Homo sapiens: one gene and its partner. The protein of the gene in region 2 interacts with the protein of the main gene of each other region in a pairwise test. Each region holds a gene or a part of one and is shown on either strand. Other genes may lie near its edges.

Region 1 (7,024 bases), on a different chromosome or scaffold from region 2:
TGTGGAGGTGTGTAACCTGTGGAGGTGTGTACCTTGTGGAGGTGTGGATCCTGTGGCAGTGTGTACCCTGTAGAGGTGTGTACCCTGTGGAGGTATGGATTCTGTGGAGATGTGTATCCTCTGGAGATGTGTACCCTTTGGAGCTATGGATCCTGTGGAGGTGTGTACCCTGTGGAGGTGTGTACCCTGTGGAGGTATGGATCCTGTGGAGATGTGTACCCTGTGGATGTAAGGATCCTGTGGAGGTGTGTACCCTGTGGAGATGTGTACCCTGTGGAGGTATGGATCCTGTGGAGGTGTGTATCCTGTGGAGTTATGGATCCTGTGGAGTTGTATACCCTGTGGAAGTATGGATCCTCTGGAGGTGTGTACCCCTGTGGAAATGTGTATACTTGTGGAGGGGTGTACACCTGTTGAGGAGGGTATACCTGTGGAAATGTGTACCCTGTGAAGGTATGGACACTGTAGAGATATGTTCACCTGTGGAAGTGTGTACCCTGTGGAGGTGTGTACGCCTGTGAAGGTATGTATATCTGTGGAGGTGTATACACCTGGGGAATGGTGTTCACCTTTGGAGGTATGTACACTGTGGAGGGGTGTACTCCTGTGAAAGTGTGTATACTTGTGGAGGGGTGTATACCTGTTGAGGAGTGTACACCTGTGGAGGTATATTCACCAATGGAACTGTATACCCTGTGGAGGTGTGTACACCTGTGGAAGTCTATACTTTTGGAGGGGTGTACACCTGTGGAGATGTGTAGCCTGTGGAGGTATGTTCATCTGTGGAAGTGTGTACCCTGTAGAAGCATGTACCACATGGAGGGGTGTACCTCTGTGAAGGGGTGTACACTTGTGGAAGTATGTTCACCTATGGAAGTATGTACCCTGTGGAAGTGTGTTCACCTGTGGAGGTATGTTCACCTGTGGAAGTGTATACACCTTTGGAAATGTGCACACCTGTGGAGGGTGTACCCTGTGGAGATGTGTACACCTATGAAGGGGTGTACTCTGTGGAGGTGTGTACCCTGTGGAGGTATGTACTCTGTACTCTTTGGAGGTATGTACCCTGTGGAAGTGTGTACCCTGTGGAGGTGTGTACCTCATAGAGGTGTGTACCCTGTGGAGATATGTACCCTGTAAAGGTGTATCTGGCCCACAGAGCTGTCAGCAGGGACCTCACCCCTCCTCTGCCTTTATGTGGGGCGCCCCTGAGGACATCCTCAAGGAGATCAGGAAGACTTGGCTGAGTTTTTACACCCCAGGAAGGAGGAGCTGTATTATCATCCCATTTTATAGATGAGGAAACTGAGACTCAGAGAAGTTAACCTGACTTGCCCAAGTTCACTCAGCTAGTATATTATGCTCCCCAGGATTCCAACCCGGGCTTCAAAGCCAGCATGCTGAACCATTACGCTACACGGCCCCACCTTGGTAACGCCTCAGCCTCCCTGCTCAAGCCTGAAAGGTGGGTGGGGGCGACGTTGGAGGTTTCCTTGGGAGGGTCTGTCCCTGCCTCCCCTGTGGGCAACTGAATCACAGGGACAGACAGGCCTGGGGCACCAAGGGTCCTCCCCAGGCTCTCTTCACGCTCCCTGCTGCCTCCCACCTGGCGGCCTCCTACCCACTCTTTATGAGTGAGGTGGGGACGGCTCAGTTCCACCTTAATGGTTTCTGTTGCTGGCTGCGGCAGCATGTTTTACGAGGGGTGGGGCTCGGCCGGCCGGGTGCTGGCCTGTAGCCCCACCCAGGGCTCCACCCGACAGGCTGCTGGGAGGGGTCCCCTGGAGCAGCTCGGCAATTATGGGGGTGGCAGGGAAGGACCTGGGGGCTCTGCCTGAGGCTTGGGCACCCAAGGAAACTCGGGGTCTGGGAATGCCAAGAAAGAGGGGGTTTCTAGCTCCTTTCTCCCCATCAATGTTGGAAGTTCTGAGGGCAAAATTCTGGCCTCCCTGGCTCTTAACCCAGCATCAGTTTCGGAAAATGGGTTGCGTGCCCCTGCCTTGAGATCTGACTCAAGTACAGAGCAGGTAGGGACAGAATGGGCAGGGAGGGGAGTGGGGAGAACAAAGGATGAAAAGCCACCATGTCCCCCAGGTGACGCTTTCCTCCATGTGAGCCACCGACACCTGCAGCTGAGTCATTCCAGTCCCCAAATCAGGCTTCTCCTAAAGACTCTTCAGCATTCCCATGTGCCTCTGGAAGCAGGCTGGTCCCAGAGCATTGCCTAGTACGCCCATCCTGGAAAAGCACTTGAGCCTTGGGCCGACCTGGAGGTTCTTCCAGATCTCTAATCCCTATTTATTGTAATCTTAGTCCTCTTGTCCTGTCCTTCCTGCCATTCACCAAGCCACCCACCAGAGCCTCTTTAAGGGCAATAGACTCATCCCTTCTGCAGGGAGGGTCCCAGCTTTGCTTCAGATGCCTGACTCCAACAGCAACCAGTCTCCCACTCTCCTTTGCCCAGCACCCCTTCCTTTTCGCCATCCCTGGCTGCCTCTGGGCACCTTCCCGTCTCTCCAGCCCCTCTCTAACCTCTGCCACCCAGCCATGGCCCCAAAGGAGCCAAATCCAAGCACTCACAGTGGGCTCTGGGTCATGGCCACCATCACCGCTTCGGGGAGTCATTCAGCCTGCAGCTCCCCAGGAGCCTCCATCGAGGTATAAATACTCCCACATGCCTGGACCGGCCCCCTGCCCGAGGGCTGAGGCGGGGCTGTCTCCCCAGGCCAGGCAGGCAGGTCACATGCCCCATAAATGCCACAGGACCACAGGCCCTTCCTAGCAGCCCTGGGGAGGCCAACTAGAGCCTGACCTCTCTGGATGGATGGGTGGATAGATAGATGTATTTATGTATGTAAAGATGAACAGTTGGATGAATGGACAGATCATCGGATGGAGAGATTGATGGATGGAAAGCTGGACAGATGGACAAATCAACAGACAGATAGATGAATGTTTTATTTTTTTATTTTAAGTATTTTTATTTCTGTGAGTATCTGTAGTGTAAAGGATGAATATTTAGTGGGATAGATGGATGGATGTCCTTGACCTACCCGTGAATGTTTATTCTGGTTTTTTTTGTTTGTTTGTTTGAGACAAAGTCTCACTCTGTCACCCAGGGTGGAGTGCAGTGGTGCAATCTTGGCTCACTGCAACCTCCACCTCCTGGGTTCAAGCGATTCTCCTGCCTCAGCCTCCCAAGAAGCTGGGATTACAGGCGGGCAGCACCAAGTCTGGTTAACTTTTGTATTTTTAGCAGAGATGGGGTTTTGCCATGTTGGCCAAGCTGGGGATGTTTATTTTGTAGATGGAAAGAAAGGGGTGTTTGGTTTCAAGGAAACAAGAAATGCTACCCCTCAAAGCTTCCATCCATTCCTTTCTGAGACATACCTACTAGGACCCCTTCTCTCCTCTGCTAGTCTGAGAGATCAGCCCTACTGGGTTCTTCCTACTCCTTAGATGCTCCTTGACAGAGACCTCCCACCTAAGCATCCTCGGCCTCCAGGGATCTTTTGCTCTTACTTGTGGGTGTCATTCATGGTCTGCCTCCTCCACCCTCCTGCCTCCCTGGCTACTCTGGAGTCCAGGCTCTGAGGCTGGGAGCCTACCCCAACATCTTGCTCCCAGAAGCAAGGTCAGCAAGCTTGCCCCGCCAAGGTTAGTGGGGGAGGGGAATTCCCAGTTCCAAAAACATAAAACCCCCTTGGACAGGCAGTTTAAGGAGAAGGTTCTCCCACCTCCACCTTCCCCAGGTTCTAGAGATGGGGTCTTGCTTTGTTGCCCAGGCTGGTCTCAAACTCCTAGGCTCTCGCCTCAGCCTCTGGAGTATATGAGACTAAAAGTGCATGCCACGGTGCTCACCTATTCCCAGGGATTTTTTGAAGCCATGGCTGAGTCTGATGGTGAGAACTGGCCTGACCTAGGACTTGGAGGTGGACAAGGTGGCCTAGAACCACTCAGGGCTTGACTGGAAAGCTGGACTTTTGAGAAGGAGGAACTTGTTGCCTGCTTGATCCTTCCAGGGGGCAGTGTTCAGAAAGCAGTGATCTGAGGCCTTAGACATTGGTTTCTAGAGAAGAAAGTTCCCTGAAATCCTCAGTCTGCCCAGCTGTGATAAGGGCCAAAGAATGGCTGATGAGGTGGGGCATGAGTGAAGGACCAGGAGGCTTTTGCACAGATTGTGAAGCCTTGCCTTCATCCCTCCTCAACAAGCTTCCTCCAGCTACACTGGCTGAAGGGGATGGAGAAATGGGCTGGGGTATGGGATGAAGTGGCTGACCTCTAAGCACTCATTAGCTCTGGGTCCCTGTGGCCCGGAAGTCCTACCCCTGTAATGAAGTCACCCAGGGCTGAGCCCGATGGTCCCACCCCCAGCCTCCTGTGGGCTGTGTAGGTAATTGGCTTTGGAGTTGTTGGGCTGTGGCAGTGATTGGCAGCAGAGGATTTGATCTGTGAGACCAACAGGGATGTTGGAGCTTGGTCTCACCTCCCCCGTAACCTGGCGTTATAATCTCTGGACGCCTTCACTGAGCCCAGATCCTGGCTTCCCTACAGAATCCCCCTTTTCCCTCACAGTGAGTCCTCCCGACCAAGGACTGCAGGAGGGTCCTTTCCCAGCTCTGCTCTCGGTGTGGGCTAGTCATGAGAATAAACCTTGTTCCCTCCTTTATAAAATGGAGTCCTCATCTTTGCCCTACATACCTCATCTGGCTGTCCTGGGGACCGAGTGAGAACCAGAATGTCAAAATCCTCAGAAGTTAAACCAGCACCAGCTTGTCTGGTGCCCCTGCCTCCTCCCCTGGGGTCCCAGGCCTGTAGGATTTCAGGAGTGGGATGGGGCTGAGTGAGATCTTTTTACCTTCAAACATCTGCCCTTCCTAGGGGTGTGCCCCAGGGGGATGGTCAAGAGGGCCCTCGTCCTGCTGGTGCGCTCGCTCTTTGCCTGTCCACCTGAGTGGGGGCAAAGAAATGGCCCAGGATCCCACTGTCCGTTGGGCCAGGGGCCTCTCACATTCTGTACATATCATTATCAGAACTGCTCATTAATACCAATCTATTATTAAGGATATTAATTCTGCCACCACTACTAATAATACAGATTTAGTACAAGGCAAATACATACTGGTGCACCTCCTCTCCCAATGCCATCTTGCACAGGGGATGGGCAGGTGGTTATCTCCTTGAACTTACTAAGCCTTGAAGTGAGAAGTGCACTGGGAGGCCCTCCCACCCAAGCCCCTCTTTATCTGACAGATGGGGAAACCGAGGTCCCACCAGTGGGAGAGATTGTTCCCTGCTATGCAGGCATCTGTGCGCTGCTCCTTCCTCCAGGTGCTGGGGCTATGGGAAGCAGCTCTCAGCACCTAATCATGTCCCTGGAGAAGGGGCAGGCTCTGGGGGCATTTTCCTGAGCCCATCCAGCTCCTTGGCTCCAGCTGCCATCTTTCTCCCTTGACCACCCTCAGATCATACTGGATTTGGCATTGCCACCCCAAATAATTTTTTCTCCAAAACCCTTCCCACTTTAGGCAGATTGACCACGCTTGCGGGAAGGCACAGAGAAGCAGAGCCACCTCTATGAAGCCACATGCTCTTGGTGCCCAACGTGGGCTCCAGGAACCCTCTCCAGAGGAAGCTGGGGACACTGCCCCCACTGACAGTGAAGACTGCTGTGGTCACTCTGGGCCTGCGTGGAGGAGGGGTGCTAAGTGCAGAGTCTGATAATTGGGTTTTCTGATCACAGCGATGTGTGTGTGTGTGTGTGTGTGTGTGTGTGTGTGCGTGTGTGTGCGTGTGTGTGTGTGTCCTTCCTCATGTACATTCTATGCCTTCCGAGACTGATGGGCTGGTGCAGTCCGGGACATGGCTATGGAATTTACAAGTGTAAGTGGGACCTCCAACTGTCTCCAGGCAATCTGGTTCCAGGGATGCACCCCATTCTCATTCTGTGTGTGTGCGTGCGCGTGTGTCTGTGTGTGTCTCTGTGTGTGTCTCTCTGTATGTATATATGTATGCGTGTGTGCATGTATGTATCTCTGTGCATGTGTCTGGGTGTGTGTCTCTGTGTGTGTGTGTCTCTGTGTGTATGTGTGTCTCTGTGCTGTAGTTTGTCAGAGGCAGTGGGGGGAGCCCTGAAGGCCCCGGAGGGTGTATGAGGGCAGGATTTGGAGCTGACTGACAGTGCATCCTCCTGTGAGCATGGGGTGGAGGGCGAGGGTCAGACCTTGCAGTGGGCTTTCTGTTGCATTCTGGAAGGGGATGGGAGGATCTGGAGGGTTGCCTACCCCTGGAAGCTTCTAGAGTAGCTGTGAGAGCACAGGTTCCCTTTTCTCCATGACTCACAGCTGGCTCTCCAGTCAAGTTCCCCAAGAGATCACGATTCAGCGAATTCTCTCCCTGGCCCCATTAATCTGAGCTGACTAAGCAAGGGCCACAGGCAGGGTAGAGACCCGGGGATGCGCACTCCTAATCAACCCTAAAAATCCCTGCTCCTGCTTCCATGCCCCCTCTTCCTTGGCCCGCCATGCCTGATAGGATCAGTTACGCTCCCAGCCCCCTGAGAAAGCCTGCCCCGGCCCCGCTTTGGGGCTCTATGAGGGTGTCTCTCCATCCCCGCTTCACTGCCACATGCCCGCAGTGTGGAGGTCTGTCTGGGCGCCAGCCCTCCACTTGTCTTGTTGCATCTGAACTCATTTTTACTGTTTGGTGAGCATCCAGCCTTTACGGCCCAGATAGGATGAGGAAGCTAAGGGCTGCTCCAGGGATGATCTTGTCCTGCTCGTTTTGTCTATTGGCATGGCTCTGGGCTTTTCCTCAATGCTCAGACAACCTGGGGGACACCCCAGAACCTGGCGGGGATGCTGGTGAGGGGTGTTAGACTCCAAGGGAACCTGTGACATAGGAGGAGATCCATCCTGAGGAATGGAGCAGGAGGTGGAGATGGGGATAGGAGTGTGGTTGGAGGTGGGAGTGAGGAGATGAGGTAAGGAGGAAGGAGCAGGATGGGGTGGTGGTGATGGAGGCA
Region 2 (7,024 bases):
GCTGAGGCAGGATGTGAGGAAACCAGGCACACAGCAGCCAGCCAGATACTCTAGCAACCAACACTCAACAGCGTGCTGTGCAGGTAGGTGTGTGTGTGTACATGTGTGCACGTGCATGCGTGTGATCTCATCTGTGGCTGAGGTCCTCAGGAGGTAGGCCAGCGCCCCGTAAACGAGGGATGTTCCAACACAGGCTTCTGACTAAGCATCATTCAGGATGCAGGGAGAAGGTGGCCTCTGGGCTCCAGCAGCCGGCTGGGGTCCAGGGTGGAGGACAGGGAAGAACAAGGGGCTGAGGAAAGGAGGCCAGAGCTTCATGTTTGCCCAGGTGAGGGCTTACTGTCCTGCAGCAACATCCCACAGCTGGCTCAAGTTCTGGCCAGGAGAGTAAGGGGTCACAGGGAAATACAATGCTGGGCCCCTCTTGGAGGGAGAATGGGAGTGGAATGTGCGGGCTCAGGTCCAAATACCAACTCAAGTCTCCTGATGGCTGGGGACACCCTGGAGGGCCAGATGGCTCTGCCTTTCTGAGCTCCAGGTATTGGGGAAAACCACCCTGCTCTGGCAGCCACGGGAGTGCAGCTGGTGTGAGAGGGGAAGTGCAGGTAGAGGTGAAGGCCCACAGTTGGCTGACGGGCACTGAATACCACATCACCTCTCACCTCGACCCCAGAGTACCCTGTGTATGCTCCACCACAGGGAGCTAATCCCTGCAGTAATTTCAAATGGCTTCTAAGAGAGGGCCAGCCCTTCCCAGATTCCTAGATGGGGCAGGCTGCCCTCCTACCTCTCACAGCACCAAGATGACAAAGACCCAAGACCTGTCCCTGCCACTGGAGGGGCTGTGGAGGCAGGAGTTCCAAGGAAGTGAGGCAACAGTCAGGGAAATAAATTAATAAATACAGGCCCCCCACGAGGAGCGGCTGGGAAGGCTGCTTTGCCTCTGAACACTGCTCCCTGCTTTCCACTCCAAGCAGCCCCGCAGGTTTTGGTGAGGGGCAGAGGGGCTGCAGTTTGGAATCGCTGGAGCATTCATTCACTTGGGACAGGCTTCCAGAACTCAGAGTTTGCGTTCCATACGCCGTTCCACGGCTCGAAGCAACAGTTCTGAGTATTGCTCCAGCAGGGCCTGTGTCTGCTCGGCTCCCACAGCCCCAGGGCTGCTGCCTGGGCTGGACAGCACTGCCCCAGCCACAGCTTCCAGCTCCTGTCGCACTGAAGAGAAGGTGTCTCTGAGGAGCTGGGCAATCCGACTTTGCTCTGCTGAGGGCATCTTGCAGCCAGCCACCTGAAATAGCACCCCCAGAAGTGAGGTGGAGGAGCCTGTCAACAGACATATAAAAGGGAGGGGCCCCACCTGGGTCCAGCCTGCCTCAGAAGGGACTAGCTGGGAACTCTACCCGCCAAGATCAGCATGTATGGCCAGGGAACATGGGATGCAGGCAGACTCTGGGGGTGACGCCCAAGGAGGAACCCATTGGATTGCAGAACCGTCTACATCTTATAAGCAACTCCTTATGACAACTCCGGCAGAATCTGCTTTCTCTTTCAAAGTTTGGGCCTTCTTGGACTGTCCCCTATGTCTAAGGGGGCCAAATAATTCATGGATATGAAAAAGGATGCCATTAATAATTACACTGGGACAACGACATAAACTGGGATTGTCCTGAGCCAACTAGGAGGTGTGGTCTCTTCAGGCCTCACCTCCTGAGGGAAGTCTCCAGCTCTTAACCAGAAATGACCGCAGGTGCCCGGTACAAGAGGCTAGCCTGGCCTCTAACCCCCTCACCTATGCTGCCCAAGATGTTCTTGAGTGTGCCATCCTGTCAGCACAAGAGGCTTAGCATACTGTTCTGGACATGGTTATCCGAAACACCCAGCACTACTGACGTGCCCGCCTTCCTGCCGGGGGGCACCTAACACCCACCGAGTGGTAGAGCCGCACTGCCTGGCGCACGCTGCCGCGGAGCTCTGCCACCAGCTGCTCACACTGCTCCAGGCTCACCGCTGGCTCTGAAAGAGACGGATACAGCTCAGTGAGGCCCAGCATGTAGCCCTTTCAGGCCTCCGCACCCAAGACACTCAGAACAGGAGAGACCTAGCCCTCAGCATTGCACCCCCCACTTGCCCTCAGTCCCTTCCTCTTGGCTTCTCTTCCAACGGCCTCCCCAACACCACACAAACAAGGTCCAGAGGAGACGGCCAGCCCCAAGTTCAGAAGCCACTGAATGGGCAAGTGAGTCACAAGGAAATCATGAAGGTTAGCAGGAGGGTCTCACCATCAGGGGTGTGACTTACGGACCTGCGACAGGAGCAGACAGGACAAGAAACACCAGAAGCTGTACCCACAGAAATGGGATGGAGCCAGACAGCGGCCAACAGAGAGGGGAGAGTAAGGATGGGGCAGGAGATGAGAGCTGGGGAGCTGTGCACACCTGAGTCCTGGCTCAGGGCTGCCCCTGGCTTGGTGCATTCCATGGGGTTGGGAGTCTTCTCAGGGGGTGGGGGCTGCAAGTTTTCAGGGCCTTGGAAGAGGCTGCTGACTGGCAGTTGCTGGGCACAGGGGCTGCTGGGCCCAGGATGAGCCTGGCACTCTGTCCTAGGCTTGGGAGTGGTGCCCTCCCCCAAACAGGCCCATCTCTCAGTTGTACTGTGAGCTTTTCCTAGGCCCACCGGGAAGCCAGGCTTTTCTGCCTCGCCAGGGGCCCGGCCTTTGGTGACAGGAGAGAATGCAGCCAGGGTAGGACGGTCAGGCAGTGGTTTGGGGATGTCCAGGACCAGGTGAGCCCGGCTGGGCAGGGCCAGCTTGCTGAGTGGTGAGACTCGGATGGGGGCATGAGCTTGAGGTTCAGCCACCAGGCCCAGGTTCTCCCCAACAGAGATACTGCGGGATATCTTGGCCATGGAACTGGTGGTGGGGTTCTGATAGGAGTGAGGCCGAGACGGACGGCCATCAGCTGGGGGCAGGGAGCCCAGACCATCCTGAGCTTCGATCTCCCGAGACAGCAGTGCGCCTGGTGAAGGGGCCTGCAGACTGGCCTCATGTCTTTCTGCAAAGGAGACAGAGGTATACACAGGTCAGGTGTTGAGGAAGGCATCCCAGGTGCCAACACCCAATCCCGAAGAGCTGCTGTTCCCCTCCACATGCCCATTAAGGGACACCTAGTGGCCAGCACAGTGGCACATCAGGGCCACACCAGGCCCTCCCTCCTCCAGCATGTACATGTGTTCCATACACCCTGCACCCTGGCACTGAACCCATCAGGCTTCTCACCCTGTGGCACCAGACTGTGCACAGACTGGGCCTTCTGGAGTCCAGAAAAGGGGCTGGCTGTGGCCACTCTCTTGGGAGCCCAGCTGCTGTCAGGGTTGAGACGGCATCGTGGCAACAGCACAGAGGCTGCCTGCTGGGGGCTGGGGTTGCCAGAGGACGGTTCCACCTCCGGGGGTGCTCCAGGGGGATTGGCACCATTGCCTCTCGGCTGCTCACCAGATGCCTGTGGCACCTGGGCTGGTCTCGACATCAGTGCCAGGCTTGAGGAGGATGGGGATGGTTCCCTACAGGGAGAACATGTGGGAGAAGGCCCAGAGAAGGCTCAATGCTCCTCCCTGCCAAAATGGCGAGAAACTCATAGCACCAGGGCACTAGGAGAGAACAAGCACAAAGCCAGATAGGGCTGGGGAAAGGCCAGTTAGCCCAAAACTGGGAGTGCAAAACACCCCGCGCATGGAGAGACAGAACACTGGAGAGGAGAGGGCAGCAGCCCTGGGAGGCGAGGAGAGCCAGAGCTGCTGCTGGGGGGTAGGGGGCCTCTGTACCTGAGTGGGCGGGTCTGTACTTGCAACAGGAATCGTGAAGAGATACTCCGAGACTCTGACCTCTCTGGGACCTGCACTGGGGCCCCTACCAAGGTCAGAGAAATCATGAATTGGGGCAAAAACCAAGCCCTTGCCCCAGATTTTGCCTCCTTGAGACCCCCAGCCACAGCCTATACCCTGGGACCCTCCTCTCAGGTAGGCAAGGAGGGGAGAAGGGCAAATTGCAGGCACTAAATGCTGGCCCTCTGACCACACCTGGAGCAGCTCCACTGGCCAGAGTCTCAAAGTGCTGTTTTAGAAACTGCTCCTGGTCTGGAGTCTGGGGGCTGCCCTCCTGTAGCCCATAGGGGCCCATGCCTCCCTCCTCTTCTTCCTCTTCTTCATCACCCTCAGCTGGCTCTTCAAGGTCTGAGGAGATGCCATCCACACTGAGGGGCTCCGTGCTCTCAGAGTCTGGGTGTGGGGAGGGGAGAGAGGCATCGCACTGCACCCATCTGTTGCCAGAGCCTCCCCACCCACCTCCAGGCCCCACCCCCCATGGCCCCTCCCTCCAGGCTACAGCCTCACCTTCAGTGGGGTGCTCCGGGCTGGAAAGGCAGCTGCTGCTGTAATCCACAGAGCAGGCACTGTCAGGGCTGTGCTTTTCTGAGCTCCTGCTGCCTGGGTACACTCTTCCCAGAGTTCCCCGGGCTGGAGCCTGCACTTGGAACTCACTGTCAGGATTCCAGCAGGGAGAAGAAAAGGCAGTGAGCAGGGGTAGGCAGCAGCCCCGCTGGACTCCTGCCTGTGATCAGGGTGAGGGATGAGGCAGTGGTGAGCTGGAAGGAAAGCCCTGAGTATCCTGGGGGCCAACCCTCCCTCGACTAAAGAACACTCATAGGGAGGGGAAGACGGGGGCACGGGGTCTGGCTAGGGCAGGATCCTTGCCTGGTATCCATGGTGGGGTTGTCACTCGGCTCCGGGTAGACAATACCATCTTCAATGGGTGCAGGTTCCAGATCTTGGGCAAAGACCCCTTCCTCTTGTGACAATAATCGGATAATATGGGGATAGGAACAAGGTTGGGAAGCCTGAGGCCGAGGGGGCTTTTCATTCTGGGAACACACAAAGGGATGTTAACAGAGCAGAGGTGACAGATGAGGCAGTGGTAGCTGGGGGGTAAGCCCTGAGTATCCTGGGGGCCAACCCTCCCCTTGGAGAAGAGGTGGAGGTGAGTAAGGATGCGGTGTGCACTCATTCAAGGGGAAGCTGAAGGACAGACATCGAGAAGCCAGGCTGGGCTCCAGTTGCTGATGTGAGCTTCTGGATGAACTATATTAGCACTCTGGGCTGCCAACCTCCAGCTACCACTTAATACCAAGAGTCCTCCAAGAAACCCAGCCCAGGGCAAAGGCCACTTTTGCCTCTCTACCCCAACCCCTCCCCTGCCTATCCTGATGACCAAACCATACAGCCCAGCCACCCCCATCCTGGCTTTGCAGTTCAGGTTACCCATGTGCCACAGGGGCAGAGCAAGCATAGCTGGACCAGTGCTCAGGTCCCAGCTGGTGGCAAAGGCTGCCTAAGGCCCCTTGGAACTCTCTAGAGAGCTGGGAGAAAGCAGGCTCACCTGGCTAGTGAGTGAAGTCTCAAGGGCCTCCTGCCCATGCTTCCTGGGACCAGATGGGATGATGGCCAGCGAGTCCTGGCTAGGGTCCTGCAGGCTTGGGGCCAGTGTTTCCAGCTGCCGCAGATCCAGCATGGATCTAACGCTCAGTTCCACACCTGGCTGAACCCAGCGCCCTCTTCTTCTGGGTCCTGGGTTGGCTGCAGGAGCTGGGTCCAGGAACCCCACGGACTCCTGTGCCTGGTGGGAGGTAGGGGGTGGGGGAGGAGTAACAACAACCACACAGTAAGATCAACAAATATCCACATATCCCTTACTATGTGCCTGGCACACTACACATACTAGCTTACTTCATCCTCACAGCAACCTTTTGAAATGGGCACTAGTATAATCCTTGTTTTACAGATGAGGAGACTGAAGCACAGGGGGCTTAAGTGAGCAGTCTGCGTCCCACAGACAGTAAGTGGCCTGCAGATTAGTCTGGCTCCAGAGTTCATGCTCTTAGCTGCATTCCGCATCCTCTGGCACAGGAACCCCTAGTCTCAGCCTTCACCTGGTATCATGGATGCCTCAGAGCTGGGGGTCTCTAAAAGTCTCCTACTCTGAGGACAGCCCCAGCAGCAACCACTTACTACCAAGAGTCCCCCAAGAAATCCAGCCCAGGGCAAAGGCCACTTCTGCCTGTCTACCCCAACCACTCCTTTTGCCTCTCTACCCCAATCACTCCAATAGCTGGGGGCCCCAAAGTCCCCTCACAGCACCAAGGACAAACCTATAGCCCAGGCCTGAGACCCCTGGCCCGGTCAGGGTGCTCCAGAGACACCACAGCATCATCACTCTGTGAAACTGTTGCTGACAACGGAAGGTACTGGTGCTTGGGAACTTGCTCTGAACACCTTGATCCCCCTTTGGCCACCCCAGGGCAGTCGCTGAGTTATGGGTCCCCTCATGGCCTTTTCCCTCTAACTATTCTGGAAGTTCTCCGCTTACCTCCTAACCGGGATCTTTAGAACTGTTTCTCCAGATCTCCGCTCTTTGGATCCTTGATTTCCTGCATTTTAGTTCTAACTATCTGGCTTAGGGGTCCTTTGTCCTCTCCACCTTGAGCTCTTCTCTGATGATATTTACTTCCAGGCACCAGGCAGCTGAACAAGTGCCCCACCTCCCCAGTGCTGACTAACCCTGTGCTCCATCCACCCCAACTGGTCCACAGGAAGGAAATACCTGGGCTTTCTTCACCCCCGCACCCAGGACCAGCCCAGCTGCTTCAACTTCCCCGACAAGGCCTTCCTTGGACACACGAGTGCAGCATGTGGGCAGACCCCATGCCCCAGTACCCTACCAGGCCCAGAGAGCCCTGTTCTCACAGCTCCCTTTGCCTCCTCTAACCTTGGAAGAACATTTTAACAATGGCGACTCACCCGACTCATCTCCCAGTGGGACAGGCTTCGGGGCAAAGCTGGGCTGGGGACCGAGGCTAGACAGAAACAGGCAGTCAGAGGAAGTGTCTCCTGCCCCCCCCCCGCCACCCAACCCTGGAGCCCTGGCCCCATCAGCCCATACCCTGTGTGGCCACAGTGATGCCTCAGTTTCCTCAGC

Evidence for each region.
Region 1: the proteins of MAPKBP1 (region 2) and FOXN1 interact in binary tests that used the Homo sapiens proteins (3 or more experiments, as listed by UniProt).

Annotation. Positions count from the first base shown.
Region 1 is NC_000017.11:28,509,337-28,516,360, reverse strand, and holds part of FOXN1 (forkhead box protein N1), read right to left. Parts: intron 1-7,024. UniProt on the Homo sapiens protein: Transcriptional regulator which regulates the development, differentiation, and function of thymic epithelial cells (TECs) both in the prenatal and postnatal thymus.
Region 2 is NC_000015.10:41,819,473-41,826,496, reverse strand, and holds part of MAPKBP1 (mitogen-activated protein kinase-binding protein 1), read right to left. Parts: intron 6,903-7,024; coding exon 6,847-6,902; intron 5,666-6,846; coding exon 5,429-5,665; intron 4,914-5,428; coding exon 4,747-4,913; intron 4,533-4,746; coding exon 4,387-4,532; intron 4,273-4,386; coding exon 4,075-4,272; intron 3,905-4,074; coding exon 3,820-3,904; intron 3,559-3,819; coding exon 3,275-3,558; intron 3,051-3,274; coding exon 2,436-3,050; intron 2,014-2,435; coding exon 1,928-2,013; intron 1,289-1,927; coding exon 1,061-1,288; 3' UTR 1-1,060. UniProt on the Homo sapiens protein: Negative regulator of NOD2 function. It down-regulates NOD2-induced processes such as activation of NF-kappa-B signaling, IL8 secretion and antibacterial response. Involved in JNK signaling pathway.